Homo sapiens: one gene and its partners. The protein of the gene in region 3 interacts with the protein of the main gene of each other region in a biochemical or structural test. Each region holds a gene or a part of one and is shown on either strand. Other genes may lie near its edges.

Evidence for each region.
Region 1: the proteins of TRIM4 (region 3) and HNRNPDL form a complex in vitro, tested with the Homo sapiens proteins (one study listed by BioGRID).
Region 2: the proteins of TRIM4 (region 3) and TRPM8 form a complex in vitro, tested with the Homo sapiens proteins (one study listed by BioGRID).
Region 4: the proteins of TRIM4 (region 3) and ABTB1 form a complex in vitro, tested with the Homo sapiens proteins (one study listed by BioGRID).

The regions. Positions count from the first base shown.
Region 1 is NC_000004.12:82,427,463-82,434,841, reverse strand, and holds the start of HNRNPDL (heterogeneous nuclear ribonucleoprotein D-like), read left to right. Parts: upstream 1-4,379; 5' UTR 4,380-5,151; coding exon 5,152-5,594; intron 5,595-6,395; coding exon 6,396-6,564; intron 6,565-6,662; coding exon 6,663-6,824; intron 6,825-7,277; coding exon 7,278-7,379. Other genes in the region: ENOPH1 (enolase-phosphatase E1), read right to left, coding at 3,929-4,012. UniProt on the Homo sapiens protein: Acts as a transcriptional regulator. Promotes transcription repression. Promotes transcription activation in differentiated myotubes. Binds to double- and single-stranded DNA sequences. Binds to the transcription suppressor CATR sequence of the COX5B promoter.
Region 2 is NC_000002.12:233,920,361-233,927,381, reverse strand, and holds part of TRPM8 (transient receptor potential cation channel subfamily M member 8), read right to left. Parts: intron 850-7,021; 5' UTR 845-849; coding exon 728-844; intron 1-727.
Region 3 is NC_000007.14:99,916,521-99,923,476, forward strand, and holds the start of TRIM4 (E3 ubiquitin-protein ligase TRIM4), read right to left. Parts: upstream 3,011-6,956; 5' UTR 2,882-3,010; coding exon 2,489-2,881; intron 260-2,488; coding exon of another isoform or gene 182-259; intron 1-181. UniProt on the Homo sapiens protein: E3 ubiquitin-protein ligase. Mediates 'Lys-63'-linked polyubiquitination of the innate immune receptor RIGI, this linkage doesn't lead to proteasomal degradation but seems to enhance IFN induction.
Region 4 is NC_000003.12:127,668,069-127,675,966, reverse strand, and holds the start of ABTB1 (ankyrin repeat and BTB/POZ domain-containing protein 1), read right to left. Parts: upstream 3,016-7,898; 5' UTR 2,942-3,015; coding exon 2,886-2,941; intron 1,623-2,885; coding exon of another isoform or gene 1,577-1,622; coding exon 1,514-1,576; intron 1,423-1,513; coding exon 1,367-1,422; intron 1-1,366. Other genes in the region: PODXL2 (podocalyxin-like protein 2 precursor), read right to left, coding at 3,487-3,699, 4,354-4,533, 6,765-6,826, 7,370-7,526. UniProt on the Homo sapiens protein: May act as a mediator of the PTEN growth-suppressive signaling pathway. May play a role in developmental processes.

The DNA of each region.
Region 1 (7,379 bases), on a different chromosome or scaffold from region 3:
TCCGCCTCCCAGGTACAAGCGATTCTCCCACCTCAGCCTCCCCAGTAGCTGGGATTACAGGTGTGCGCCACCATGCCCAGCTAATTTTTGAATTATTTATTCCTTTTTTTCTTTTCTTTTCTTTTTTTGAGACAGCGTCTTCCTCTGTTGCCCAGGCTGGAAGGCAGTGGTACAATCTCGGCTCACTGCAACCTCCACCTCCTGGGTTCAAGTGATTCTTCTGCCTCAGCTTCCTGAGTAGCTGGGATTACAGGTGCCCACCACCATGCCCGGCTAATTTTTGTATTTTTAGTAGAGACGGGGTTTCACCATGTTGACCAGGCTGGTCTCAAACTCCTGACCTCAGGTGATCCACCTGTCTCGGCCTCCCAAAGTGCTGGGATTATGAGCCACCATGCCTGGCCTACTTTTTGTATTTTTAGTAGAGACTGGCTTTCACCATGTTGGCCAGGCTGGCCTCGAACTCCTGACCTCAAGAGATCCACCTGCTTCGGCGTCCCAAAGTGCTGGGATTACATGCCTGAGCCACCGTACCTGGCTTGTTACCATATACTTTTATAGCACAGTACTTCACATTGATTAAAGAACTCTCATACTAACTGTGTCATTTAACATACACAACCACCAAGCAAAGGAGACAGGACAAACAGTAGCATCCCATTTCCAAGGCTGAGTGCAGTAATGGAAAAAATAAGAGTTTTTATGAATAAGACAATCTGAGTTCAAATCCCAGGCATCTTGTTCAACTTTTCAGAGGCTTTGTTTCATCCTAAGTAAAGTGTAGACAGTACATACACCTCATGGTCTTTTAGAATGAGTCAAGGATTGAGTACTGCACGTATACAGTACTCAATGTTTCCTTCCATCATTCCACAGAAGGAAGGGCTACAAGTTCACACACCTACTCTGACTTTAAAGCTCCAAGCAGATTATCTTTCAACTCCCATGCTCAACCTTTCCGTGCTCAGATTCAAGAATGTAACTCAGCATCTCTTTAAAAGGTGTTTAAAAGATTAGTCACTGAGATACTCTACTAAAAGTTTTTTGTTCAAGTAGATTTGTGAAATGTCACTCTCTTGAAATCTCACAAAGTGTGTATGTGTGTATATATATGTATGATACCGAAGGTTCTGAGAAGTCTTGCAATAAAGAAATCTATTTGAACTCATTCTAACTAGCATTTCCCAAAAGTGCATTTAATGGAATCCTTTTTTACATAATTACCATAAACATCCACACAGACCTAACTTTCTTTTAAACATACTTTTAGGAAAAATGGTTTTGATAAATTCATGTCTAACAAATTATAATAATAGATTAGATTATAATAGATTAACAATATTAATAACAATAGATATTATTATAGGACAGGGCACAAGAAATTATCCTTTAAACAAGATCCCTAAATCATTCTTTTGCAGCCTGCATTGAAATTGCACATTGCCTAGCGTCAAATTCAGAAAAATTTATTTAGGCAACTAAGACATTTTTATTTTTGGATTTCAGAATAAGTCTGCCACAGACACAAAGATTCCAAGAAGTGGCTCATAATGTCATCTAGCAGAAGACACACTTGGGGAAAAAGGTGGGGGAGGGGTATTATGTTTTGTTGCAAAATTGATTTTGTATGAGGTTTCTTACTCCCCAAATCTACCTTCAGAAAACGGTAGTATCTAATGATCTAATGCCACATCACTACCTCTCCTGTCCTTATCCTTGGTCTCCTGATGACCGCAGAAAGCAAGAGAGAGCCAGAGTGGAACGAGTGAGCTGTTAACTATAAATTACAAAAATGAGGACTCCTTTTTTCTCTGAAAACCAAGAAAGCGGTTACTCTGTCACAATCCAAAAAAAAAGGAAATTAATCAATCATCAGTATTTGTCCTGAAATTTTCCGCAGAGGTCTCTGGTGTGATTAAAAACGTGGGGGAAGGTCAGGCGCGGTGGCTCGCGCCTATAATCCCAGCACTTTGGGAGGCCGACACGGGAGGATTACCTGAGGTCAGACCAGCCTGGTCAACTAAAAATACAAAAATTAGCCGGGCGTGGTGGTGCGCGTCTGTAATCTCAGCTACTCGGAAGGCTGAGGCACCAGAATCGCTTGAACCCCGGAAGCAGAGGTTGCACCACTGTATTCCAGCCTGGGAGACAGAACAAGACTCTGTCTCAAACAAAACAAAACAAAACAAAACAAAACGTGGGGAAGAGGCCGGGTGCCATGGTTCACGCCTGTAATTCCAGCACTTTGGGAGGCTGAGGTGGGTGAATCACTTGAGGTCAGGAGTTTGAGACCAGCCTGGTGAAACCCTCTTCTACTAAAAATATAAAAATTAGCTGGGTGTGGTGGCACATGTCTGTAATCCCAGCTACTGGAGAGGCTGCGACAGAAGAATCGCTTGAAGCTGGGAGGCAGAGGTTGCAGTGAGCTGAGCTCACACCACTGCACTCCAGCCTGGGCAACAGAGCGAGACTCCGCCTCAAAACAAAAACAAAAACCGTGGAGAAAATGCTAAACTCGATTTCTTCTGAACCTATGCTAAGATGTCAAGGTACTGTGATTCTTCTAAAAGAATTTTAAAGGTTGTTATGTTTGGTGTCCTAAAAGTGTACATGGATTTTATATTATAACCTACATCAAGAAACTCATTCAGGCCAGGCGCCTTGGCTCATGCCTGTAATCTCAGCACTTTGGGAGGCCAAGAATTCCAGACTAGCCTGGGCAATATGGCGAAACCCCGTCTCTACAAAAAATACAAAAATTAGCCAGGCATGGTGGCTCTCCCTTCAGTCCCAACTACTCGAGAGGCTGGGGCAGGAGGATGCCTTAAGCCCAAGGAGGTAGAGGCTGCAGTGAGCTGTGATTGCACCACTCCACTCCACTCCAGCCTGGGAACAGAGTGAGACTCTCAAAGAAAAAAAAAAAAAAGCCTTATTCACAGATAATTTTTTTTAAAAATGGAAACTAAAATAGAATTTAAAACCCAAGCTGCTCAGTTTCTTGGAAGATGGATTTTTCCTACTTGGTAATATACTTTGTATATCTCGACTATTATTGTGCATGCAAGCACCTCTAAGAAGTACTTGTATCTGCAATGAATTCTTAAACCTCAGGGAGCCAAATAAAAAGACAAGGCCCGAGGAATTCTTTCAAAAATTAAAGTAACATTTCATATTTGCTTATTCTAACAGACAAAGAATAAAGAAGGAATCCGCTAAGTTGCAAGCTGAGGTGCAGACAAGTGCTGGTTCACAGTGACATCCTAGAAGGAATGCTCTGGATAAGAGCTTCAAGCTTCTGTGGTTTTCTGAGGAAAGTGAACGGAATCTAGACGTGTCCTATAGCTCAAAAAATCAGCGCTATGGACCACAGCGCCTAACAGAGTAAAATAATACACTGTGCAGTTTGGCCACTAACAGCAAGAGTGGGAAGGGGCGAAGAGGAACCTTGATTGCCCGACACCAGGGCCACCTGAAAAGTCATCTTGACACTTCAGTCTTTCCATTTTGAGATCGGAAGCTTTAAGGACCATTAAATCGCTGCCGCTGCCACACCAGGCCCGACGGAGCAGAAAGGCTGCGCTCACCTGCGGAAGCGACCGGGTGCACACCTGCCGGGTGGCGAGGCCCGCACCGTCACACCCCGCCCCGGCTTACCTGCCCTTCGGTGATTTTTAGCGTCAACTTCCATCCCTTCCCACCCATCTGGATCCAACCAAGCGCAAGGGCGGGGGAGGGAGAAGCTAGTGTCGCGAGGAAAAGCATCCCCGCAACCCACCGCAGGCTTTCTCTCCTTCCTCCCCATTCCACACAAGAGGCAGCCACACCGCCTCTCCTAACCCTCGTCTCCAATGCAAGGCCTGAAATACTTAGAAAAAATAATAACTGTTTTTAAGGAAAAGTAACATCCCCGCTCCCTTCCGCCCCTCACCTTCACGAAAGCAATCGGGGTTGTGGTACCTTCGATATCTAACAGGATCACGGTGACTTCGGCGGGGACCGAAAGCACGACCATTTCCCTACCGGATGCTACGGGACTCGGCCTGCTGTTGGGGAGGGCGGAGGGCGGCGCCGGCTGCGGCTGCGGCCCCCGGTACCGTCTTGGGCTTCCGGCGGCCCCGCGCGATCTCGGAGCCAGCGACCAAGTGCAGCCCGCCGCGCGTGGGGAGAGGACACTTCTGCACACCTGGAACTGGAAAAGGCGGCCGCCCAGGAGCCCTGAACTCGTGAGCAGGACGGGGCAGGAGCCCGAGACCACGTGGGCAGGAAAAGGGGCGGCCCTTGACGGGTTCGGCGGGGCGGGGAGGGTGAAGGCGCCAGCGCCGATTGGCCGCCGTCAGGCCTCGAACTGGATCCGTCAAAATGGGCCTCGCGTGGGCGGGAACAAAGAAGCGAACGCGGGAGCAGGGTGCGCGAGAGCGCGCCCTCCGCAGACAGGTTGAGCGAGCGGGAGAGGCCCGGGGCACGTGCAGAAAGGAGCCCCGCGAGTGGCGCGCCGGGGATGTGAGTGCCCCTTGCCCTCTACTGAATCCAGCCCCCTCCCCGCCCACCGCCTCCGCCTTTGCATAGATACAGTCATCTGGCCAGCCCCCGCCCCTCCTCCCGGCGTCAGCCCGCCAGAGGCCGCGCGGGGCCCGGGCTTCGGCCGATCAGCCCGGGAGGCCCCGCCGCGCCCCCTTGGCCCGCGCGCCCGTGGTCACAGTGGAAGAGGCGCCCGCGCTGCGCTGCCCGGAGGAGCCGTCGCGCGCCCGCTTCCTGTTCGGCTGGTTCCTGCCAGCTCGAGGACAAAACACGCGTGCGCGCGGCGGGCGAGCGCGCTCGCCGCCTCAGTCGCCAGCGCCGGGCGCAGTCCGCCTTTTTCCGGAGCAGACTGGCCGCGGTGCTAGTCGGTAGCAGCGGCCGCCGCAGCGGCTCCGCACTGGCGAACCGAGGGCAGAAAAAGGCGGGGTTGACGGCTTTTTGGTAGGAGTGGGCTGGACCGGACGCCAGAGACAAAGGCTCCCAAGGCAAGAGGGACTGTGGCCCTGCGTCGGCTCTGCTCGGGACTGCTGACCCCAGGAATTTACGCCCCTTCGTTTTTCTCTTCTGATTCTTCTCTTCTCCCAAGCCCGCGTCCCCTCACGCGTGGCCTCTCTCCTTGCCGGGAGGGCCGCGATGGAGGTCCCGCCCAGGCTTTCCCATGTGCCGCCGCCATTGTTCCCCTCCGCTCCCGCTACTTTAGCCTCCCGCAGCCTCTCCCATTGGCGGCCGCGGCCGCCGCGGCAGCTAGCCCCGCTCCTCCCTTCGCTCGCTCCCAGCTCCGCCCGGCAGGGGGCGCGCCGGGCCCAGCGCCACGTCACCGCCCAGCAGCCCTCCCGATTGGCGGGCGGGGCGGCTATAAAGGGAGGGCGCAGGCGGCGCCCGGATCTCTTCCGCCGCCATTTTAAATCCAGCTCCATACAACGCTCCGCCGCCGCTGCTGCCGCGACCCGGACTGCGCGCCAGCACCCCCCTGCCGACAGCTCCGTCACTATGGAGGATATGAACGAGTACAGCAATATAGAGGAATTCGCAGAGGGATCCAAGATCAACGCGAGCAAGAATCAGCAGGATGACGGGTACCGCACGCTTCTTCCCCCGCTCCCCCTCCCCCAGCGCGCCGCACGCGCCCTTCGTTCCTCGTGAGCCGCGCGCTGCCCCCATTCTTTCTCAGAGTCGATTCCCCGCGTGCCTTCTGGGCCCCACTAGATTGGAGGGAAGAGGAAAGTAAGAGATCGAGGGGGTGACTGGAGAGACCCGGGAAGAGTGGGGGAAGGGCGGAGGGGTTGGAGGAGGAGGGCGGCGGCGTCTGTGTCCCGAGCGCGCAGGCGCCGCGTGGGACCCGGGGGGGAGGGGCCGGCCTCCCAGCGCTGCACGCTGCAGCTGCCGCCGCCTCTTCATTGTGTCTCTGTTACCACTCGGCGCGGTTTTCCTGGGAAGAGTTTTAGAGGACTGAGTTGGGGCACAAGCAGGCGACTGGTACCCAGATTCACAAAACGTGTTATGATTGATGAGTTCTCTGGGTGGAACGTTGGCTTGACAGCTGAGAACGAAGATGGACCTAAGTAAGATAAGATGTGAGGGATTCATCTAGGAAGTTGTGCCTTCTACCTAAAGGAATCTGGGCAGAACCTTTACTGTATTTTATTGGTCTCTTTTGAGCTTTGCTTTATGTAGTGCGGACAGTGAGCTGTCCGCTGGTTTGAGTAACTTCGTTGGGATATTGGGATTTTTGTGTGACATAGATTAAATGTAAACATGAATTAAATTGCCTACACTTAGGGGGTAAATGTCCCTGTTTTTATTTCACGATTTAATTCCAGAACTGAAGGATCATTTGAGTTATTGTTAATTTTTTTTAAAAACACTTTTATTTCTAGTAAAATGTTTATTGGAGGCTTGAGCTGGGATACAAGCAAAAAAGATCTGACAGAGTACTTGTCTCGATTTGGGGAAGTTGTAGACTGCACAATTAAAACAGATCCAGTCACTGGGAGATCAAGAGGATTTGGATTTGTGCTTTTCAAAGATGCTGCTAGTGTTGATAAGGTAGGAACTATGTTTTGCATTGTGCTGCTTTTGTGGTGTTTTGCAAATTTTTCTGGGGGTTATATGGTGCTGTCAGATTAAATAAATCTGTCTTGTAGGTTTTGGAACTGAAAGAACACAAACTGGATGGCAAATTGATAGATCCCAAAAGGGCCAAAGCTTTAAAAGGGAAAGAACCTCCCAAAAAGGTTTTTGTGGGTGGATTGAGCCCGGATACTTCTGAAGAACAAATTAAAGAATATTTTGGAGCCTTTGGAGAGGTGTGTGATTATGTTTACACATGTTAAGCTTGATGTGTTTATAAAATGTTCAATCCTTGTCCGATTTATGCAGGGCAGATTCATGTTTCCTGTAAGAGTAGAATTAAATGACTGCTCAAGTCGCTTCCAGTGACTGTACCTTGATTTCATTGCTGCTCTGATGGAAACCCAACTATCTAATTTAGCTAAAACATGGGCACTTAAATGTGGTCAGTGTTTGGACTTGTTAACTAGTGGCATCTTTGGGTACAAAATAATATTAATTTCTCTCAATGCTTCAAATATACAACAAATCACTGTAGGCTGATGTTGATCATAAAGCAGTGATGTCTGTATAGAAGTCACCCGATAAGAATAACATGTTTAAGTTGAAGCCTGAAAAGGCCTTTGGCATTCTGACACTGTAACGTTTTACAATTATGGGATGACGTTGAGTGTGCATCTCGATTTCAGATTGAAAATATTGAACTTCCCATGGATACAAAAACAAATGAAAGAAGAGGATTTTGTTTTATCACATATACTGATGAAGAGCCAGTAAAAAAATTGTTAGAA
Region 2 (7,021 bases), on a different chromosome or scaffold from region 3:
GAGCAGGTTTTTGCGTATTTGTTTGTGTGTGCGTGTTCTTACAGCTCAATGATAGATCACAAAGTCAGCCCCCATGGAACCCACCAGTGAGATCAAAATCCTAAGCAACACCCCAGAACTGCCTCCCACCACCAATTCCTACTTTCCAAAGCTAGCCGCTATCCCGACTTTTAACACTGTAGTCCATGAGAACTGGATGTCAGGCTGGAATGTTGTCTTAATTTCTTGACAAATGAGAGTGTTGGACAGGATATGAGAGTGTTGGACAGGATCTGAGAGTGGGTGGAAAACCTGCAGGAGGGAACTCAGCCCAGTGTCAGCAAAGCCAGGCAGGAAGAGGTAGAGAGGTGCTAAGGACACACCTCCCGCTGGCACCCAACCCCGACTCCAGCTCACCCAAGAAGCCATGATTGGGCACGTCTGTGTCCTGAAGGCAGCGTAGAAGCTGGCCTGGAACCAGGAGAGACAGTGTGAAGGAGTGCAGCTAGGAGGCCATTACAAGAACAAATGCAGATGGACCCAAACTGAGACCCTGGCCATAGAGCTGGAGAAGGGACTGTGATTCAAGGCTCAGACCGGAAACAAGAGCACTGAGCATTAAGTAGTGAAAGGAATTTTAAAGACATGGCATTTAAAATGTTCTAAAAGTCAATGTGCAAATGCAGGATTTGACGGCTTACGAAGGTTACAATGATAACCTTTCAAACAGGTGATGCGCATGACTTACGCTTTCACTGTAAGACAAGTCTGTGCTCCGAGACGCGCTGGAGTACAGGGTCCGGGTGCTGTCCAGAGTGTCATTCCTTCTGTTCCTCATGCTGAGCCTGGCTGCCCGAAAGGACATCTTTTCTGTGACGATGGTTGGAGGGGATAAGTTTGGGTTACAAACAGTAACAGGGCTTCCTTCAAAGCTTCACCCCAATGCCGTTTTCCCTCCACCCTCTCCCCTTTGCCACGTGCAATGTCCCATGCTCCATTCGGCCCACCATGGTCATTGTGCCTCTGCCCCTAATTCCTCTTTACCCTCCAAGACCCAGATGGCATTTCCACCCCTCAGCCCATCCTCCCTGGCCCCTCACCCCTGAGTCAGGATCCCCTCCTGGGCACCCCCTCTTTGCAGTGGCCAAGTGCATGGCCCCACCAGACTGCAAGCTCTGAAAGGGCAGTCTGTAGCACATGCATCACAGTGCACTCCATCTGAGGGGCTTGCAGTAGCTACTTGCTAAGTAATGAATTGAGGATGAAGGGAATTTACAGAGCAGACTATGGCTAGCAGCCTGCATTGGCCAGAGGACTTGCACCTCAGGCAGAAAAGAAGACCCCTGCCCCTGAAGGGTGGTGGGTAGGGCTTGGGGGTCAGTCTGTCCCAGGTCATCCTGAGACTCTAACGCCCAAGACTTCCCTCTAGGGCTCTGGAGCAGGCTGCTAGCCTGGGCATTGCAAAACCTTATCTGTCATGCAATGCTTCCCGGGGTCCCTGCTCTGTTTTTCTCACTCTAATATGCCCCCATCCCATACTTCAGGAGGCCCCTCTCCCCTCGTCTCCCAAAGTCTAACTCAGACCCACATCCGAAGCTCGAGACAAAACCCGTCAATGCCTACTCAACCTCTGGGGTTGTCCTGCTGACACAGTAAATGAAAGCACTGTCCTTCCTGCATACCGTGTCTCCCTGAGTCCCCTCCTCCTGGCTCCAAGCTCCTCCCTGTCTGTCCCACCACATCCCAGCAGCAGTCCTTCCTCCTCACCCCTTCCAAGGCTCTCGCGTTGTCTCTGCGCTCGGCCCTGCTGGTCTCCACCTCCCCGGCCTGACTGTGCCCACCTCCCTCTCTCTCTGGACCTGGCTTTCCTAGCTGGGGTCCCACCTTCTGTCCAGAGCCCTCTTCCCCATACCCCTCCAGCTGTCATCTCCTGCTCATCCTCCAGGCTCAGCTCACTCATCATTTCTTCAGGGAGATGCCCCACAATGCCCAGGCTGAGCAAGTGCTCACCTGCCTGTGTAGCCCCTTCAACCTGCACCAAGCTGTGGGCATCATGATTTGTTTAATGATCTGTTTGACCCCTGTTAACTTGCTGAGGCCAAGGACTGTATCTTGTTCACCACTAGACTTCCAGGGCCTGGCACAGTGCATAAAGGAGATCTGCATATTTATTTATTGGATGAATAGTTTGATTGAATCAATACTCCCTTGCAAATCCTCCTTCGGTTTGCTAACTATTTCCACGTCACCTGTTATAACTCCCGAATGCAGAAATGTCTAAGACACAGAGCAGACCCACCACTCAGCCACACTCTGCTCTCAGACCCTCAGCCCAGGGGGCCATGACTCCTCCATCCAGATCGCCCCTCCCAGGCCAGCCACAGGCCTCCCACACCTCAGAGACTGGCACTGCTTTAAAATGCACTCCAAATGGTTGGTCTAGACTGTTTAAAACAACAAGCGCTTCTTTTACTTCTCTCCCCAGGCATTTCAAAGAGAAGCTGAGAGTATTAATTGGCACTTTACATACATCATTGCAAAACCACAGATCAATCCTGCAAGGTATTCACTATGATTCCCTTACAGCAAACTGCTTCTAAGTAGGGCACCAAGGCTTAGGAAGTGACTTCATTTGCCTTGAAATGAAAAACTGTTTATTTCGCTGCAACAGAAAAGGGGTATTTTTGCCTTCAAATCACATTTCTATCAAAGAAAACATTGGGAAGCCATTTAAGAGATGCAGCAAATAGCCCTCCTCTGACATTCCGAATGCCTTTCTCAGCAGCTGGTAGTCTCAACTGGTTCTCTGAGACCAGTTGATATTCAAGTTGGTTGACTGGGTCTTGGCATACAGTCTTAGATAGCAGCTATCCCAGTACTGCAGGTTTGTTGATCTTCTAGACACATTGTTGCAGGACTTCAGGCTCAGAAGTAAAAGAAGCATTGGAAGAAGGAACTTAAGGCCTGAGGTCCAAGAGAAGCGATATGGGAAGAGAGCAGCTGGGTCCCTGGAGAGTGAGAGGAGGGGTCTGTGGAAAAGGAGATGCCCCTGAAAGAGATAGAACGGGAAAGGCAGGGGGAGAAAGCCGATCCCTTGGTGCGTCATGCGCCAGGGAGAAGTAACAAAATCACACCGCCAGATCCAGCGATCCAAAATTCCCTGGAAACAATGGGCAAAGGGCTGGGATGTCCATGCCCAGCATGAGTCCTTCCGCTCCTGACTTGCCCACCTTGGACTTATCTGTCAGTGTCAGGAGAAGGTCCCTGGGGATGATCTGAGCACACCAAAGCCTAGGAGGAACTTGTGAGAAGCTTATCATCCATGGGGATGTCTTCTTATTGCATTCAACACTTTCCCCCCAACACTGTAAAAGTAGTTGTTTTTATTAGAGTTTTGATCTGGTAAAGAAAATCCTGACTGCAGCCTCCCTGCTCTTCTTTCTGCCCAGCATGTTCCCCTTATTCTGAAGTCCTGATGGTTTACTGATTCTAACCAGATATTGGTCCGAAATTTTCACATTGATTGTAAGCCTCTTTACATGCAAACTCAATTTTGGCTGTTTTTGTTTTTTTCCAGCTCTGGACAGTTTGTTGTTGTTGTTGTTGTTTTATTGTTTTCTAGTTACAGCCTCCCCAGGCAGAAGAGAGAGTGAGGTGCTTCCCCAGGCACGACAGAAGCTGAGACTAGAAGTCTCAAGACCCATGAGTGAAATGCTTAATTGACAGTCGTCCTTACTTCTAATGAAGCTGGCACCCTAATCAAGTGTGGCAAAGACTGGCAGCACCGTGTGACCCCATGTCAAACCAGAGGATGTGCTCGAGATGTGCAGTGGATGCCGGCCCATGGAGCCCTGCGTGGTAACCTGGTGCCGGCAGCATTGGGCAGGCAGAGCACGGCAGCAGGGGACATGGGGCTGTGTCCCTCCACTTTAGCCCACCCCACCAAGGAGGGAAAACCTTGGTACAGCTGCACCACACCTAGCTGTGGCCATTGCTAGAGGAGCCATGGAGAACACTGGAGATTTGTCATGTCAGTAACAGGCCTTTCCAAAGAAAAGAATGTTCTACTTACAAGAGACAGTCATCAGAAAATCAACAGAATAAATCTTCCCCAAGATAAAGAAAGATTTGAGTCTTCACAATAAAAACCTCACTGGGTCTGCTGCCAAGCAAAATTAATAGGGCCAGAGGTATCCAGATGAAATCATTTAAGTATAAGAATAAACATAAAAATGGCCGGGCACGGTGGCTCACACCTGTAATCTCAGCACTTTGGGAGGCTGAGGCAGGCGGATCACGAGGCCAGGAGATCGAGACCATCCTGGTTAACACAGTGAAACCCATCTCTAACAACAACAACAAAAAAAATTAGCCAGGCGTGGTGGCGGGTGCCTGTAGTCCCAGCTACTCAGGAGGCTGAGGCAGGAGAATGCGTGAACCTGGGAGGCGGAGCTTGAAGTGAGCCGAGATCGTGCCACTGCACTGCAGCCTGGGTGACAGAGCGAGACTCTGTTTCAAAAAAGAAAAAAGAATAAACATAAAAACATACAAGCAATATAGCAGAAAAAAATTACTAAAGGAGAAAAACCAGGCTGGTATAAAACTTCTCTTCTTCAACACTATAAACTAGAAGAAAATGGAACAGTGTTTACATTTTTTTAAGAGGGAAAAGATTGTGATCTAGGAATTGTATCCTGAGTCAATTCAGCTGTGAGGGCAGTAGAAAGACACACTCAGGAATGGGGAACAAGGAAGGCAAACACTCACATAACTTTAGGCAGCTCTGGAAAGGGAGACAGGGAGGCTGGAGGGAAAATGTCAGATATAAATAATAAGTAGAGATGACGTGGTAGAGGTTTTTTTTCAGTTTAAATGTTTATATTTTATCTCAATGCAGAAAGAGTTGAAGAAACTTACTAAAATATTATGTAAAGCAAAGGAACCAAAGAGAAATAAATGAGCTGAGGATAAAATAAGAGAAAGAGACTGGTTAAGTGAGGAGCTTATCCAGCCACAGGGGAAGCCTGTTCCAAGGTCCTCAGGGGGCACTAGAAATCATGCCCTAAACTTACCAATGGCCAAAGCAAAGGGATTGTAAAAAGAAAATAAAATTTTAGGACCTTCCAGGTTGATTATGCCAAGGGGAAAAGTGAAGCTCTGAAAACAGAGTCACATAGCACAGCTATTTTTGCACAACCCTTGCTGACTGACTTTTGCAAGGGTTGTGCAAAACCAGATGGAGATGTTCTACCTTAACCGGACTCCCTATCCTTCATTCTAACCTAGACTTAATTGATGTTGGAGACAGAGACCCTTGCGACTGTAACCTCTTTACAATAGACTGTTAAGCAACCCCCTTAGAGTATAAACAGTAGTAGTCAATCAAATCTTACATTTGTACAGTAGCCTTCATACAGAAAATGTGTTTCTGGCCGGGCATGGTGGCTCACGCCTGTAATCCCAGCACTTTGGGAGGCCAAGGCAGGGGGATCACTTGAGGTCAGGAGTTTGAGACCAGCCTGGCCAACATGGCGAAATCCCATCTCTACTAAAAATACAAAAATATTAGCTGGGTGTGGTGGCGGGCACCTGTAATCCCAGGTACTTGGGAGGCTGAGTCACCAGAATCCCTTGAACCTGGGAGGTTGCAGTGATCCGAGATCACGCCCCTGCACTCCAGCCTGGGTGACAGAGTAAGACTCCATCTCAAAAAAAAAAAAAAAAAGAAAAGAAAAGAAAAAGAAAAAAGAAAAAGAAAAAAAAGAAAAGAAAAAAGAAAATGTGTTTCTGTTCGGCACCTCTGGCTTTGCCTGTATAAATGATTCTCCCTTTTCCCCATCCCAGGTGCAGTGATCACCATCCTTTGCTGTCATTCTGCTGTCTGGATGGCGGCCCTCATCTTTGCACTTGAATAAACTCTTTTAATTGGATCCTGAGCCTTTTGATTATTTTAGGTTGACAGGATGAACATAGTCAATTACAAGCTTCAAGGCATCCATAAACTAACTTCAAACCCACATTCCCTGATACAGAGGCCAGGGTGAAAAGAACTCCTACATTTGGGGACAGGTAGGATGAGGAGGATGGGGTGATTGTAAAGGGGCAGAGTGAAGGGGCTTTTCTAGTGATGGAACAGTTCCAAAATTCGGTTGTGGCAGTAGTTATACGAATCTACTGACGTGATAAAATTGCATTAAACTATACACACATGAATGAATGCATGTCCAAGTGGTGAAATCTGGGGCCGGGCGTGGTAGTTCATGCCTGTAATCCGAGCACTTTGGGAGGCCAAGGCGGGTGGATCGCCTGAGGTCAGGAGTTCGAGACCAGCCTGGCCAACATGGTGAAACCCCATCTCTATTAAAAAAATACCAAAAAATTAGCCAGGCATGGTGAAGGGCACCTGTAATCCCAGCTGCTCAGGAGGTTGAGGCAGGAGAATCACTTGAATCCAGGAGGCGGAGGTTGCGGTGAGCCAAGATCACACCATTGCACTCCAGCCTGGGCAACAAGAACTAAACTCCATCTCAAAAAAAAAAAAAAAAAATGGTGAAATCTGATAAAGCCTTTGCATTGTGCCAATGCCAATTCTCTGGTATTAATCTTGTATGATAGTTACATGAGGTGTCACCATTGAGGGGAACTGGGTGAAGAGTACACAGACCCTCTCTATGCTTTTTCCTCTTCCACTTCCTGTGAAGCTATAATTATCTCAAAATAATAAGTTAAAAGAAAAATGCCTATGCCAAAAGCACACTGGGCCACATAGTGGTAAATATCCCTGCACAGCCATGCAAGACTTACAGCACTAAACTTAGCCTGGCTATTTCTTAGAATGTCCTGAATGCAAGTTGAAGCTATGCCATGAAAGTAAAATTCAATGGAATTATCTCCATGGCAGGCCCAAAGGAAGGGACCTTCACAGAGAGATAGCTAAGGATTTGTCCAGTTCTAGGATTTACTTGTTTAACTATGTCAATCTTTGCTTTCATGTTTTTAATCAATAATCTCAATTATTTCTATTCATGGTCTTTACTCTCAA
Region 3 (6,956 bases):
CAGTTAACCTGACAGTCATCTACCTGCCATCTGAAGCAGAAATCTGAACTACCATCCAAGACTCCTCTCTCTCTCACCCACCAAGTCTAATTGATCACCAAGTCATTCAACTCCAGCTCATTATCACTCCATCCCTCCCTCTCCATCATCCCTGCCCTGAACTAATTCAGGTCTTTATTACCTCCTGCTTAAAATGGTACAAGAGCAGCCTAATTAGTCTTCTCTTCCATTCATCCACGTGGATGTCAAAGTTACCTGTCTAAAACAAAAAAAACGATCATATCATTCCCTGCCTTAAAACCCTTTTATAACTCCCCACTGCCTGAAAGAGAAAGTTCAATCTTTTTACTATGGCAAACAAGATCCTTCATGATAAGGCCCTGCCTTTTTCTTCAAGCTCATGGCCCACCATCCTCCTTCCCATGCTCCATGCTCCAGAAGTACTGAGCAACCTCCAGTCCTCTCACACACCACATGCTATCCCACTCCACCACATTTGGAATATGCTGTTCCTTTGGCCTGAAATACCTTCTTTCCTACCTCTACTCACCCTTGAAGAGCTAACACATTTAACTCCTCAACGGAGCCTTTCCTCACTCCTCAGTGATCACTCCGACCTCAGACCTTCTGTACACTTGGTAAATACTTCAGCTACTCTCACACACACTGAAATTAATGTTGTACACGCTTAAGTTCCTTACAAGACAAAGCCCATGTCTTTCTCATCCACTTATGTCCAGATTCTAAAACAATGTTTGGCAAATAGTAAGCATCAATAAACGTTACTGAGTGAAGGAATGAACATACACTTTCTAGTCCAGCTTTGTGTCTGTTTCCTGTTCATAGTCAGCTGGTACAACTGTACAGTATTTTACAGTTTCCAAACATTTTCACTGTGTCATTAAATTCATGTGTTTGGCCAGGAAAGCTTGCTCACGCCTGTAATCCCAGCACTTTGGGAGGCCAAGGTGGGTGGATCACCTGAGGTCAGGAGTTCGAGACCAGCCTGACCAACATAGTGAAACCCTGTCTTCACTAAAAATACAAAATTAGCTGGGCATGCTGGCAGGTGCCTGTAATCCCAGCTACTCGGTAAGCTGAGGCAGGAGAATCACTTGAACCCGGGAGGTGGAGGTTGCAGTGAGTTGAGATCTCACCACTGCATTCCAGCCTGGGCAACAAGAGCGAAACTCCATCTCAAAAACAATAATAATAAAATAAATAAATAAATTCATGTGTTCATGTACTTACTGCATATCAATTCTGCTGGAGACCACTGGAGTTACACCATCAGTAATGGGAGGGGGTGGGGCTACTCTGGAAAGGATGATCAGGGAAGGTCTTCAAGCTAAAAGCTAAAAGGATCTAAAGGATAGATGTGGGTAGAGAAAGAGAACAGACTTGAAACAAAAGCAAGAAAGCCAGTATGGCTGAAGCAGAGTAAGGTAAAGTGATTTATTCAACCGGAGCTTCTTAACCCATGAGATAGGACAGATAATCCCCAAATTCAAATGTTACAGGATTTTCCCAACTGATGAAGGAAGCTAGTAACAAAACCCAGCCTCATCATTACAAGCTAGGCTTTTCCCAAATCATCAGCTGTCTATGACATTTACAGATACAGACAGGCACTGTCCAATACAGTATCCATTTAGCCATACAAGCACCTGAAACGTGGATATTCCAAACTGCTATGTGTTGTAAATGTAAAATACACACCAATTTCAGACCTATTATGAAAAAGGAGTATAAAATATCTCATTGAGGCCGGGCGTGGTGACTCACACCTTAATCCCAGCACTATGGGAGGCCAAGCGGGGCAGATCACTTGAGGTCAGCAGTTCGAGACCAGCCTGGCCAAGATGGTGAAACCCCTCTATACTAAAAAACAAAAATTAACCGGGTGTGGTGGCGTGTGCCTGTAATCCCAGCTACTCGGGAGGCTGAGGCAGGAGAACTGCTTGAACCCCGGAGGAGGAGGTTGCAGTGAGCCAAGATCACGCCACTGTGCTCCAGCCTGGGCAATAAAGTGAGACTCCATCTCAGAAAAAAAAAAAAAATCTCATTGATAATTTTCATCTCAGCTTTGAATATTTGGGGTAATCAGATTAAATAAAATATATTATTACAATTAACGTCACCTCGTTTCCTTATCTTACCAGAAAGATTTTAAATTACATATGTGGTTTCTATTGGACAGCAGCGGCACACACCCTCTCAGTATGTTTTTCTTTATTATGAGCTCCCCAAGGGCCAGTTTATTGAAAATTCTGCACAATGATTGCTGAGGTTTGCACCTCCCCTCCTCTCATTCCAGTTTTAACCCTAGCTCTGAAATTCGTGTTTTGCTTAACTTCTTTGAGTTTCAGGGGCTTTTCATGCTTCCAGTAGGAATGACAGCCACTTCGTGGCTCTTTTAGGAGCATTAAGTAAACTTTATCGGGCAACACTGACAGCCCCGTCATAGTCACCGCGACGGCCAGCTCACCCGGTAGCTCTCGAAGGCCTCGTCGATGGGTGCCATGGCGTGAGTCTGGTGCTCCTGGGACTCCCTGCACACCAGGCACACTGGCCGCTGGTCGTCCTCGCAGAAGAGCCGCAGCGGCTCCCAGTGGCGGCCGCACAGGCCCGGGGGCACGGGGCCCAGGCGCCGGCGCTGCGTCTTCTCAGTCAGCCTGGCCAGGGCCCAGTTGGGTCGCAGCGCGGCGGGCGCCGATGGGTGCCGACATTCGGGGCAGGGGAACGGGCCGCCGCCCGGCGCCCAGTTGCGGTGCAGGCAGCCGCGGCAGAAGTTGTGGCCGCACTCGATGGACACCGGGTCCTGGAAATAGTCCAGGCAGATGGGGCAGGTCAACTCCTCCTGGATGTCCTCAGCTTCCATGCTGCTTCCCTGCCGCGGAGACGGAGTCCGACGTGAGGCGCGGGAGAGGCCAGCAAGCTGCGAGCGGCCGCGGGGAGGCCAGACGACTTCCGAACCGCCGTCACCGCCTCACGTAAAAGGGTACAACGCAGTTTCTCTTCCGGGGTTCAGGACCCAAAAAGAACGCACGGACGTTGCCCGGCCTGAGCGCGCAAGACCGGAAGCTGCTGGGTATCCGCGCCGGAACCGCGAGGGGGTTGGTTCAGGCCTAGGCGCGGGGCAGGACGGGACCGGTGAGTGGCTCCTCCAAACAGCTATAGAGACCCAGAAATGCCTGTGGAAAGCTACAGAGGACTTGGGCAAGGCGTTAGAGCCGGACGTTGTGGTCCCTGGGGGAGCCAACCGGGGAGGTGCCTATGATCTTTCTTTCCAAGTTTGAGGGTTCAGGTCTGTGTTCGCCTGCTGGTTAGACCGATTTAAGTTTTAGAGTCCCAGGAGTTCTGGGCGAGCTGCAGCCTAGGGGCCTGGAAGGCCAGGAAGACTTGAAGGATCTGTGTTGGTAGGCCTGGAGTTTGGCTAACGTGGGGATGATTTGGATTCTGAGATGCAGATACATTGCCTTTTTGGTATCCAATTTGAAAAGTAGCAACCATTTTGCTATCCCAAAGAACATCCATGGAGGCTTTCAACAAATAATATGCTCACCTGTTTCAGGGAATTATCTATATCCCTTAAGTGGATTTTCGATCTTGTGTTTCTGAGGTGCTTTGCTTTTTATTCTTCCCACTTTCTTCCTTTTCTTGTGAATATTTGTTTAAAACAAAAAAAACTCTGGACTGACAAATTTAATAGAAGCTATTTGCACAAAGAACAGTTCATGAATTGGGCAGCACTCAGAACCAAAAGAGGTTCAGAGAGCTCTGTCCAGCAGTATGACCTGCTAGCTTTTATAGGAAGCAAAGTAGAGAAATCACCTCATTAGCTAACATCTAGGTGTCTGCCTTATTTGACAATGATATGATGAGGCATTTGCCTTATTGGGGCATGGTCTGATCAGTTGGCTGTCTGTTATTTGCTGAAGCTCGGCCGTGATTGGCTGAAACCCAGCTGTTATAAAAAATAAAGTAAGTTAGGCTTCAGTTCGTTTACATACTAAGTCAGGTTGTATTTTGTTATATGGGAACTCAAGTACCAAGACAGCCTCAGGCTAATGGGCTTTTGCTTATTTAACAGATTTTTCATTCTTTTTATGTCCCAATATCAAATACTGCCTTTCCTATAATAATTTTTCTCAGTAAGTAGTATGATTAAATGATTAGAAAAAGGGGTTCTTGAGGTATCTGTTTGGGGGTTATTGATGAAAGTTCCACTGAATATTTCTAAAACATTTAAATTGGACAACTAATGAATGGATTTTCTTTGCAAATTGGAATACTCTATGGAGAAGGGATCTGGTTCTTTAATAGGGACCAAGCAGGAAGGAATGCTCTTAACAGTTACTGATGTTTACCATGAGTGTTTATGGCATCTGTGTGTCTATATGTTTACCTAAGTATTGAATGAGAAGTTTCAGCATTCCTGCAAAGTATTTATTCCCCTTACAGTAGTCATTTAAATCTTTTCAGGTAAATCCCTTAAAATCCTTATGTCTTTATTCCTGCCATACCAGAGATGACCTTCCTTCTTTACTAAGTGAGGCTCCCTAATTAACAATTTTTCTCCATCACAAAATGTCTATAAGTCTGTATACCAGCCAAGGTTCATTCAGAGAAGTGGAATCACTATGTTTCTTTATGTTCGCAGGGCAAGCAGTTAAGAAGGGAAGATGAACATAAAGTAGGGAAGAGCAAAAATGAGTTGGAACCTAAGACACGAGCTGGTCATTCTTTCACTGTCTCCAACTTTAAAGATATGAGTATCCTTGCTAGAGGAGCTGACACTTTTTGCCACAGGACTAGACACACACACAGCTCAGGAATCAAAAAAGGTGAAGGAAGACTCAGGGAAAAGCTTCTGCCCCATCCCAACAAGGTGAACCAGCTGATTGGTGACAAAGTAGATGAGCCGCAGTAGCACCTAGTGTCCCTGCACCACCGTTTCAAGTATAAAACTGGAGGGATGCTTCAGTTCTCCCCTTCAAGACTTACACAACCATGTCTCTGTTGGGCTATTCTAACCAGAAACAAAAGGAAAGGAAATTCTGGGAAACATAGTTTAGCTTAGCAAAGTTGATATATTACAAAATTACCACTGTCCACTCTGCATCGAGTTGACATCCATACAGACCTCTTTAAAACACACTTTCAAAATAAAGTCCACACCCTACACATAAGCTATCTCTAGAGAAATTTGAAGTCTGTTGTGCACTGAGGATAACCACAACAACAAACTGTAAACCTAGCCCAATTTCTGACTAGACTGATACCACCGAACCACTGCTATGCACTCAAGAGCACTAAAGGCCTAGCAGAAGGAAAGACACACTCATCTCCAAGCATAAAAACAATCTTTACTTCATACTGTGAAGAGAGAATTGAAAAAATAATTTAAGCAAAAAAAATACAACATGACTAACTTTTAACAGAAAGAAAAAAAGACGCATACAGAAAGGCAAGAAAAAACACAGTCCAAAGAGATAAAACAATCATTAGAACCAGATTCATAAGACATAGACATTAGAAATATGAGAGAATTTTAAATAACTGTGATTAATGTGATGAAGGCCCTAAGGGGAAAGGTGAACAAAATGCAAGCTCAGATGGGTGATTTTAGCAAATAGATGGAAACTATCAGGAAAAATAAAATGGAAACTATAAAAATAAAAAATATAATAATAGAGATGAAGAATGCCCTCCATGGGCCCATTAGGAGACTGAACACAGTTGAGGAAAAAATCAGACTTGAAGGTAGGTAAATAGAAATTGCTGAAACACACACACACACACACACAAAAAGAGTGACAGAAACAGAACACAGCATCCAAGACTGGTGGGAAAATATCAACATCAAATCAAGAAATAGGCGCAGTGGCTCACCCCTGTAATCCCAGCACTTGGGGAGGCCGAGGCAGGCAGATCACGAGGTCAGGAGATCGAGACCATCCTAGCTAACGCAGTGAAACCCCGTCTCTACTAAAAATTCAAAAAAATTAGCCGGGCATGGTAGCAGGCACCTGTCGTCCCAGCTACTCGGGAGGCTGAGGTAAGAGAATTGCGTGAACCCGGGAGGCGGAGCTTGCAGTGAGCTGAGATCACACCACTGCACTCCAGCCTGGGCGACAGAGCAAGACTCTATCTCAAAAAAAAAAAAAAAATCAAGAAATAATGGCTGAGAATTTCCAAAATTTGTAAGACACCAAACCAATCCAAGGAGCTCAGAGAACACAGAGCAGGATAAATTCTTTAAAAAGAAACTAAGCTTATTGTATTCAAACTAAGCTTATTGTATTGATACCTGGTAGTTATAACTTACCAAATACACTGCCCAACATCTCCAGATGATCTATTATTTCTGAAAGTTTCCTTTATTACATTTCTTACTTCAGGGAGATATAGCCTTCGCTTCATGTTATGGTTGGTGCAGTCAGTATTCTCAGAAAGAAAGTACTGGTTCCATTTTACCTCCATCTTTTGTTTCCTGTCAGAAAACCTACCATACCACCAAGTACTCCTTCTCTACACTGCCTCTGATATTTAAGTAATTTGAGAATTCTGTTGAGACTATCTCCCTTTTTTGGTATGATGAATCTGGTCCTAAATTGCATGCCAAAGACTTTGAGAACTAAACTGTAGACCCAGATCTCATGTCCCAGACTGGCCTTTTGTTACCCACACAATGAATGGGTTAAATTGCTTGGCAGGGGACAGTCCAATGACCACAACCAAGGAGGATTTCCCAGGGGGATTTTATTACTTGCGATAAGTAAGGAGGACACTGGGAATAATTCCCCAAAGCAATGCCTCCCTGAGCAATGGTGCAAACATGGCTTTTATTAGTCTGGTTAGCTGAGTCATTGTATGTAGAGGTGGAGTCAAGGCAGCGCAGTCCCAGTTGTCGGTTATGCTGCTACATATGTCACATGTATAGAAAATGGTGA
Region 4 (7,898 bases), on a different chromosome or scaffold from region 3:
GGGGAGGCAGGGCTCACCAGTTAGCAGGGAAGGGGCCTGGGGGAAATTCTAATCTCCCTGTCCCTCCTCCCCACCTTCCCACACATGGGGCTCCGAATCTCTGGCGATGCCTTCCCAAATTACCCTGGGCCCACTCTGACCCCAACACCCTCCCAGTCAAGGGCTAGGCGAATGGGCACGTCTGTGTGCACTCACACAGGCACATACTCACTCACACGGAAGACAGACAACACAGAACGGAGAGCTGACTTGGTGGCTGGGCTTGTCCCACACACTGGAGCACAGCAGTGAACGAGACACAGGTCCCTGTCCTGCTGAACTTATACTCTAGTGAGGCAGGACAATCAACCCACTACCTAACGATGGCAGGGACTATTAAGAAAAACAAGCCTGGGCGTGGCAGCTCACACCTATAATCCAGGCACTTTGCGAGACCAAGGTAGGTGGATCACTTGGGCTCAGGAGTTTGAGACCAACCTGGGCAACATAGTGAGACACCATCTCTGCAAAAAAAATACAAAAACTTGCCGGGCGTGGTGGTGCACGCCTGTAGTCTCAGCTATTTGAAGATTTGAAGGGGCTGAGGCAGGAGGATCACTTGAGCCTGGGAGGTTAAGGCTGCAGTGAACCGAGATCACACTACTACACTCCAGCCTGGGTGACAGAGCAAGACTCTGTCTCCAAAAAAAAAAAAAAAAAAAAGAAAAAACCAAAATAGGAAGAAGAATGGCACTGAATGAAGGGAAGTCATGAAAGGTCACTCTGTAATGGTGGCAGCATGCAGAGACCTGAATGAAGGGGGAGTGGGCCATGTGAACGTTTGCAGAACGGCAGTCCATGCAGGAGGAACTGCAGGTGCAAAGGCCCTGGGGCAGGAACAGGGGCATGCATAGCACAGTGGAGCCCCAGCGAGGCCAGTGTAGCAGCAAGCAAGCAGCAAGCAAGCAGGGAGAGCCGAAGGAATGAGGCCAGTGGGAGGGCAGACCCTGTGGAGCCTTGGGCATGGCCAGGCAGGCTCACTGTATCCTAGAGGCAATGGGAACTTGCTGGAGGATTTTTAGCCGATCAGATTCATTGTGAAAAGATCAACTTGGCTGCAATGGCAAGAGAGAGGCAGGCACCGTGTCCGGGGAGAAATGCTGATGACTGGGCCCAGGTCGTAGAAGTAGAGATGGGCAAGGTGGACAGAGAAAAGGTTTTAAAGTAGCAATAATAGTACTTGCTGATTCGACTGGGTGGTAAGAGAGGAATCGTGGTGCTTTGCAAATGTGTATCAAGGCCTTTGAATGCACGCACGCATGCATGCACCCACACGCACACATGCATGCACCCACGCACACCCGTGAGCCGGGCTCCCTGCTCTCACCATTGGCCAGAAGGTAGAGTACCAGCTCCTCGTGCCCACACAAGCAGGCATAGTACCTGAAGGGAGGAAGGAAGTACAGGAGGCAGTCCTCAGTGCTGAAGGGGTGCACCAACCCCCACCCTCCCCACCCCTCTCTCCAGCACTCACAAGGGGGTGCTGTCCCACTTGTCCCGCACATTCACCTCCACGTCTCGCTGCTCCAGCAGGTACCTGGGCAGGAAGGAGGTCAGAGCCTGGGTCAGGACGGGTTCATGGTCTGAGAAAGAAGGCCCGTGGAAAGGAACGGAGAGAAAACATCCCTTTTGGTATGGGGAAGCCTCCCCCAGGTGAGGGCAGGTGACAGGCAGACCAGAGCAGGAGAGGCACTCAAGGCAAAGTGCAGGCAAGGATGTGGAGGTGGGGTCGAACAGGCAGACACTGTGTGCTATCAGTGCTGGGGGACGATGGGCTACAGGGACAGAAGCCAGAGCCAGTGCCGAGGCTGGACCTTTGGCCTTTCAGCGTTTGGGAGAGGAGGTGATGGAGCCTTCACTCCCACCAGAGCTCTCTACTGCAGGAAGAAGCTGGCCCTGTTAGAAGCAGGGAGCCCGGGAAAAAGCTGCTGCAGGCCTCCTGATGGTGTGGAGGGCACACAATTCTAGGAGGCAGGAGTCGCGGGATACAGCAACTGATGGGATGCGGAAGGTGAGCGAGGGGAGTCGCCAATGCTAATGCAGCCCCACTGAGGCGGGGGCAGCCCAAAGGAGGCCTCCAGGCTGCACCTGGAAGTGCTGTGAACCCACTCAGCGTTGACACTATGCACTAACTCTTGAGTGGCACGGGATGTCAGGGAGCGGCCCAGGGAGGCTACGGGAGTACAGCAGCCCGGCGCCAGCCCAGGGGAGGTGGAAGCAGTCAGTCAGCACCAGGTCAAGGGGGAGGAAGGGCCAAGAAAAAAGGAGGTCAAACGGGATAGTGGAAGCCCAAGGAGGGGAAGGGCCCCAGAACCCAACTGGGCACCCCTTCCCTCCGCGTCCGGCCCATGGAGGGGGCATCTCAGCGCCAGATTCACTTTAGCTGCGTCAGGAGTTTCCGAATCCTCAGGGACCGGAGGCCGATTATGGGCTCTAGGTGTTCCCCGCGCCAGGTCCAGAGAGCACGAGAGAAAGGGGCCACGTCTGGAGTCCCAGGCCTATACCCGCGCCCTGCGCCCGGGGGGTCTGACGTCCGGGCCCTACCAGGGCGAACAGTGGCCCGCCTTCTCTCCGCCCACTTCTGCGCCTTCGGGCCTCCGCTGAGCAGTCCCTTCTTACAGGAAGCCCTCCGGGGGTCAATGGCCATCAGTGTCCCCGCCCCAGCGCGCTTCCGCTGGGGGGCTGCGGCGGGGGTCCGGGTGGTCTGCCCCGCGGGGGCGCTCCGAGGGCTGTGACCCGGCAGAGGCGCCCGCCTCTCCGCGGCCGCCCAGCCGCCCGTCCCAGGGCCCGAGGCGTTCCGAGGGCGGCCACCTCCCGCACCCTCCCCGGGACTGCGAGGTCCTCACCGCACTCGGCCCACATCCCCCTTCCTGCAGCTGGCGAACAGGTCGCTGGTGTCCATGGCGCGGAGGATGGTACCCGAGCCGAACGACCTCGGGCGGCGAAGCCGCGCACCCGGCGGATGTAAACACGCTCAGCCCCGCCCCGCCCCGCTCTGCAGCGGCGTCCGGAGGACCCGCCCGCCCCGGCCTCCCCGCCCCGCGGCCCCGCCCCTGCCCCGGGGTGCCCCGCCCGCCCCGCCCCGCCCCAACCCCGGAAATAAGAATGAGTCAAGAAGGCAGACGCGCTGGGCCCGGCGTGGTCTCCGGGCGGGTTTAATTGAGTCCCGGGGCGCAGGAAGCGCCGCCCGCCGCCCGCGGGGCCGGGGTTCAGGGGCGGGAAAGCGGGGCCAAGGCGGGCTTTGAGGCCTGCCCCTCGGGCGGGAGTGAGGGAGTTGGTCCGAAGCCGCCGTGTGAAGTCGGGGGAAGCGGGAAGGAGCCCGCGCCGAGGGCCAGGCCGCGGGGGCGGCCCGGGTAGGCGCGGGGCTGGTGCGGGCTCCGGGCCGTCCGTTTCGGGGTCCACCTCGCTTGGTCCTGGCGGCCCACTCGGCCTGCGCCTCGGCTGCGCTCACAGGTGCGTGTCCTCCTCGAACACGTCCGAGTCCTCGGGGTCCCGCTTGCCCCCCATGAGCGCCCCCCAGCTCCCCGGGCCGTTGAGGGCCCCGCCGCCGTTCAGGCTGGGGTGCTTCTCCTGCATCTCCGACTGGCTGTCGCTGGCCACGTCCAGCGTGGGGTTGTCGTGGCAGCCGTTCTCCACGAAGCGCAGCTCCTCGCCGTGCGACTGAGGCGGGGTGGGGAGAGGCCATGGGCGAGCGAGCCAGCCCCCGGACAGCGCCAGGCCCGCGGCCGTCTGTGCAACCCCACCCAGGGGGTTCCCGCGGCACCCTCCACAGGTGCCAGATCCTTCTTTTCTGTTGCTGCAGCTCAACTCCTTTCTCAAAATAAACCTACTAGTCGTTGGCACTACAAAGCCCCGTGGCCTCCCTGACGTCATCGATCCCCCAACAGCCCCCTAAGAAGACTCCACTTGCGAGGTGGGCAGGGAGCATCGCTAGGGCTCTGCTCGCTTCCTCCTGGGGAGGCCTCTAGGCTGCTGGAGCCTCTCCTTGATCCTTGGGCACCACCAACGCAGGGCCTGCCTCTGGTGAGGTATTCAGGTGCTCAGGCCCTGCAGTGCCTGCGCCGGAAAGGGGCTGGTGGTGCCAGGGAGGGGCCCCCTGGTGGGGCTAGCAGCCCCCTCACTCCCTGCACCTCTGGCACCTGTCCTGGGGCTGGTGCCCTGCAGAGCAGTCAGCAGTGCTAGGCTGACCAGCTGCTTCACCCACGGGACCCTGTGCGCCCAGGAGAGTCACTGCCTCCCCTTGCAGATGAGGACACCTATCGATGGGCACTCTCCTCTCAACTGGCCCCCAGCCCCACCTGTCCCCACACTCACCACGTGCTTGAGCTTGGGCAGCCGGCGCTGCCAGCAGTTGTAGAGCAGGCCAAGCGCAATGATGATGATGCAGATGGCCCCAATGACCACCAGCACCACGAAGAGCGTGCCGTAGTCGCTGCGCACCTGGCTGGCCCGCGCCTGGCAGCTGCTGGTTGTGGAATAGTTCTGGATGCCAATCTAGGGGTGGGAGGGGCCAGTTTCCTCAGCTGAGGTCCTGGGGTGCCATGGCTCCTCTGGGGTGGTTGCATTGGGCTCGGGTGGGGATGGGGGAGCAGGCTTAGAAGGTGCTGGCACTCCCGGCTCCTGAAGTTCCCTGGCGCCTGGGCTTGCCTCTACCCCATGCCCATCCCGTTTGCCTCAGTACACCTGGAGGCCTCTCCACCCCATGCCCATGTTCCCAGCCTCCTTCACATCCCACCATAGCTTCTGCCCCAGCCGCTGAGTCTGAGCTCACTGTGGCCCTAGGCCTCCAGTGAGAGTGGACCCATGCTGCTGGACACCATCCAACTAGAGAGAGTGCCCACACCTATCCTAACTAGTTAGAGAGACAGGAGATGTGAGCCCCCCACACATCCTCCACCATACAACCGCTTCCACCTCGGTGGGGAGGGGTGGACCAGTCAGCTTCCTGATGCCAGGGCCGGTGCAGGGAGGGATACTGAGGGCATGCAGGCCACATGGGGGGCCACCCCGGCTGCCCAGCTTCCTCCCTTCCCATGGCGTGTTCACTGCTGGCATGTAGCTGCCTGCATCCCTCCACGCTGCAGGTTGTCATGGTCAGTCCTGCCTTCTCTGGCCAAGGAGATCGGCGCCAGGGGCCAGGCAGGTGCTATCTCCACAGATCAGCATCTTAGCAGAGAGAAGCAGGAGGGCGAGCACCACCAGGGGCTCCTCAGGTGAGGGATCAGGGCAGTTCCCAGTGCTGAGGCCTAGGTTGCACCAGGCCCCCTTTCTGAGTTCAGGTTGCAGCTCTTCCCCGGTTTCTGTGAACCACCCGTGTATCTCCAGTACTTTTCTCAATTTTTTGTTATCAAGGGTCAGTTTTTCTTGCTAGATTCACCTGAGTATATTTCCAAAGACCCAGCATGACTTTTGGCCAAGTCAGTGTGAATTAAGTGACCAGTAACGCCAGAATACTCAGGGGCAGCGAAAAGCAGGGGGAGGACTGTATAAAAGGTCAAGGTTAGCCCACACTTCCACCAGCAGCCCCACTGTTCATGGACCCACGATTCCAGAACTGGGAAGGGCCTCAGTGGCCCTCCAGGCAGTAGAGCAGTGTGGTGAAAGGCCCGGGCTCCGGAATCAGGCTTCCTGCAAAGCCTGGCTCTACCGCTTACTGCTGGTGCCATCTCAGACAGGTCACCTAACCTCTCCCGCTTCAGCTCTCATCTTCCATGGGGACACCATTGGTACTCAACAGGTGCCTCACTTAACCCTCACAACCCCATGGGGTGGTGGCGAGGACTGAGGGAGAGAGCCTTGCACAGTGTGGTGCTCAGTGGGCATTCGACATGCTCACCAGAAAAGCACCACCACCAGGGCCTCTGCTCCCCTGGCATGCAAGGATGAAGAGGCGGCCAGCATTATACCACTCATCTCTCCTGCCAAAAATGGCAGCACCTTCGGGAGTGGAGAGGGCTGATGACAGGGCACTGGACTCTACAGTGAGCAAAGGCAGTTTTGGTGGAGATGGTGGCTGTCCTCAAGAAGTGAGATGAGGAACAGAAGGACCCCATAGGCAAGGTGGTGTGAGGAGCAGGACTGGGGGACCCTGCCATCCCATCCAAGCTTGTGCGGCAGCTGGGTAGGAGAGGTTGATCGGGATGGGCCAGGCAGCCAGCAGACTGCACTGGGTGGGGGCACCTCCTAAGATGGCAGGGCTGCCTCCTGGCCCCCAGGCGCCGCATCTCACCGCAGCAGGAGCGCAGGGCCTGGCCGTGCAAGCACCAGTAGATTCACACGTCCACGCCAAGTCACATGTCCAGGTCTCCCAGGCTTGCTCTTTTGGTTTCTGGAACCCATCATGCTCGCCCCTCCCACCAGGCAGCATGGTGTCTCTGCCACTGTCTACCCAGAAAACTCCCAGTTAACCCTCACTGCTCCCCAGACCCTTCCTCTCTGGGCCCTCTCCTGACTGTCAGCCTCTTAGCACAGCCCCCACACCCCCATGGCCCCTTTCTGCCCCTGGCCATTGCCTGCATTGGACCTTTGGTTGGTAGCATGCACATGCACCGTCTTTCCCACAAAACCATGTCTAAGGGAGGCCTGAAGCAAGGAACCTGCCCAGAGCACGCTCTGTCTTATACTCCTTTGAACCTCACGATGTGGGCAGACTCCTGGGACTTTGAGGAACAGAGACAGGAGGGAGCATATTAGAAGCTAACAGGTCCAGGTCCCTGCACTCTTACCTCCTCCAGGCTCCTGCGGATGTCACCCAGCATGGAAAGGACATCTTGAGTGGGCACCACCCCTGGGGGGTAAGAAACACCACTATCAGTGTGACCATGGCTGAGGTGCGTGCCCCTCCAAGGGCTCTGGCCCCGCTCTCCAACAGCTGGCCTGAGCCTCTGTCTCCCTTCCTGGCTCAAATTGCACACAGATCCTCAAGGCACATGCCTCCCCCTCTCTTAGACATGCTTTCCACTGCATCGATCTGTTAGAACATCGATTTGTATAACACCAGCCAGCCACTTGCGAAGCCCACACACTGCCTTCTGAACACACCCCTTCTCCCCTGCCACACCAGGTACAGTGTCCATTCATCTCCCACCTGTGCTGGACCACACCTGTTCCCCTGCCTCCTGTTCCCCATCCTTAATTCTCACACCCTCCTCCTTGTCCCCAGAACCCAAGCTGGTGGGTACACCTTGACCACTAAGCTAAGTAGCTCAAACTACTGTCCTGGAGTTCCAAGTTTCAAAGCCCTTATGCGTGCACTTTTTTCCCGTGACCCTCAGGGGCCGCCCGCCTCCCACTGCCCTCCTGGGCCCTCCCATCACCTGCCCTCGCTCACCCTGCTCGCCCACCAGTGTCATGAGAAGGTGCTGCTCCTTCTCGCTGGGCTTGCTCAGAGAGATGTGCCAGGCCCCATGGTGGCCACTGCCATGGCGGGGCAGCACCTCTTCCACCAGGGCCAGGAGCTGTGGCCCCCGGTGCTGCCGGAACACCTCCTACAAGGGCAGAAAGAGCCCCCCGTGTTCAGTGAAGGAAAGGGGCTCTACTGAGCCCTCTGCCTCTAGGCCCAGCCCCGTACTCACCCTCAACCCTCTGGCTGTTCCAAGAGAGGCAGCTCTGGTCAACTCTGGAGACCCTCTGAGAGCTGCAAGCCAGGGAATGTGGGAACCCCAAGATGTACACCCATTTGTTCACTTACACCAGGTGCTCCTTCCTGCCCTGGCCTCTAGCCATGAGAAAGTCAAGGGGCCTGTCCCAGAGACACATGCAGTTGAGCGGGGCGGGGGCTGGGGACACACACACACACACACACACACACACACACACACACACACGCAGCCATGTACAGTGACAAGCCCAGAAACTGG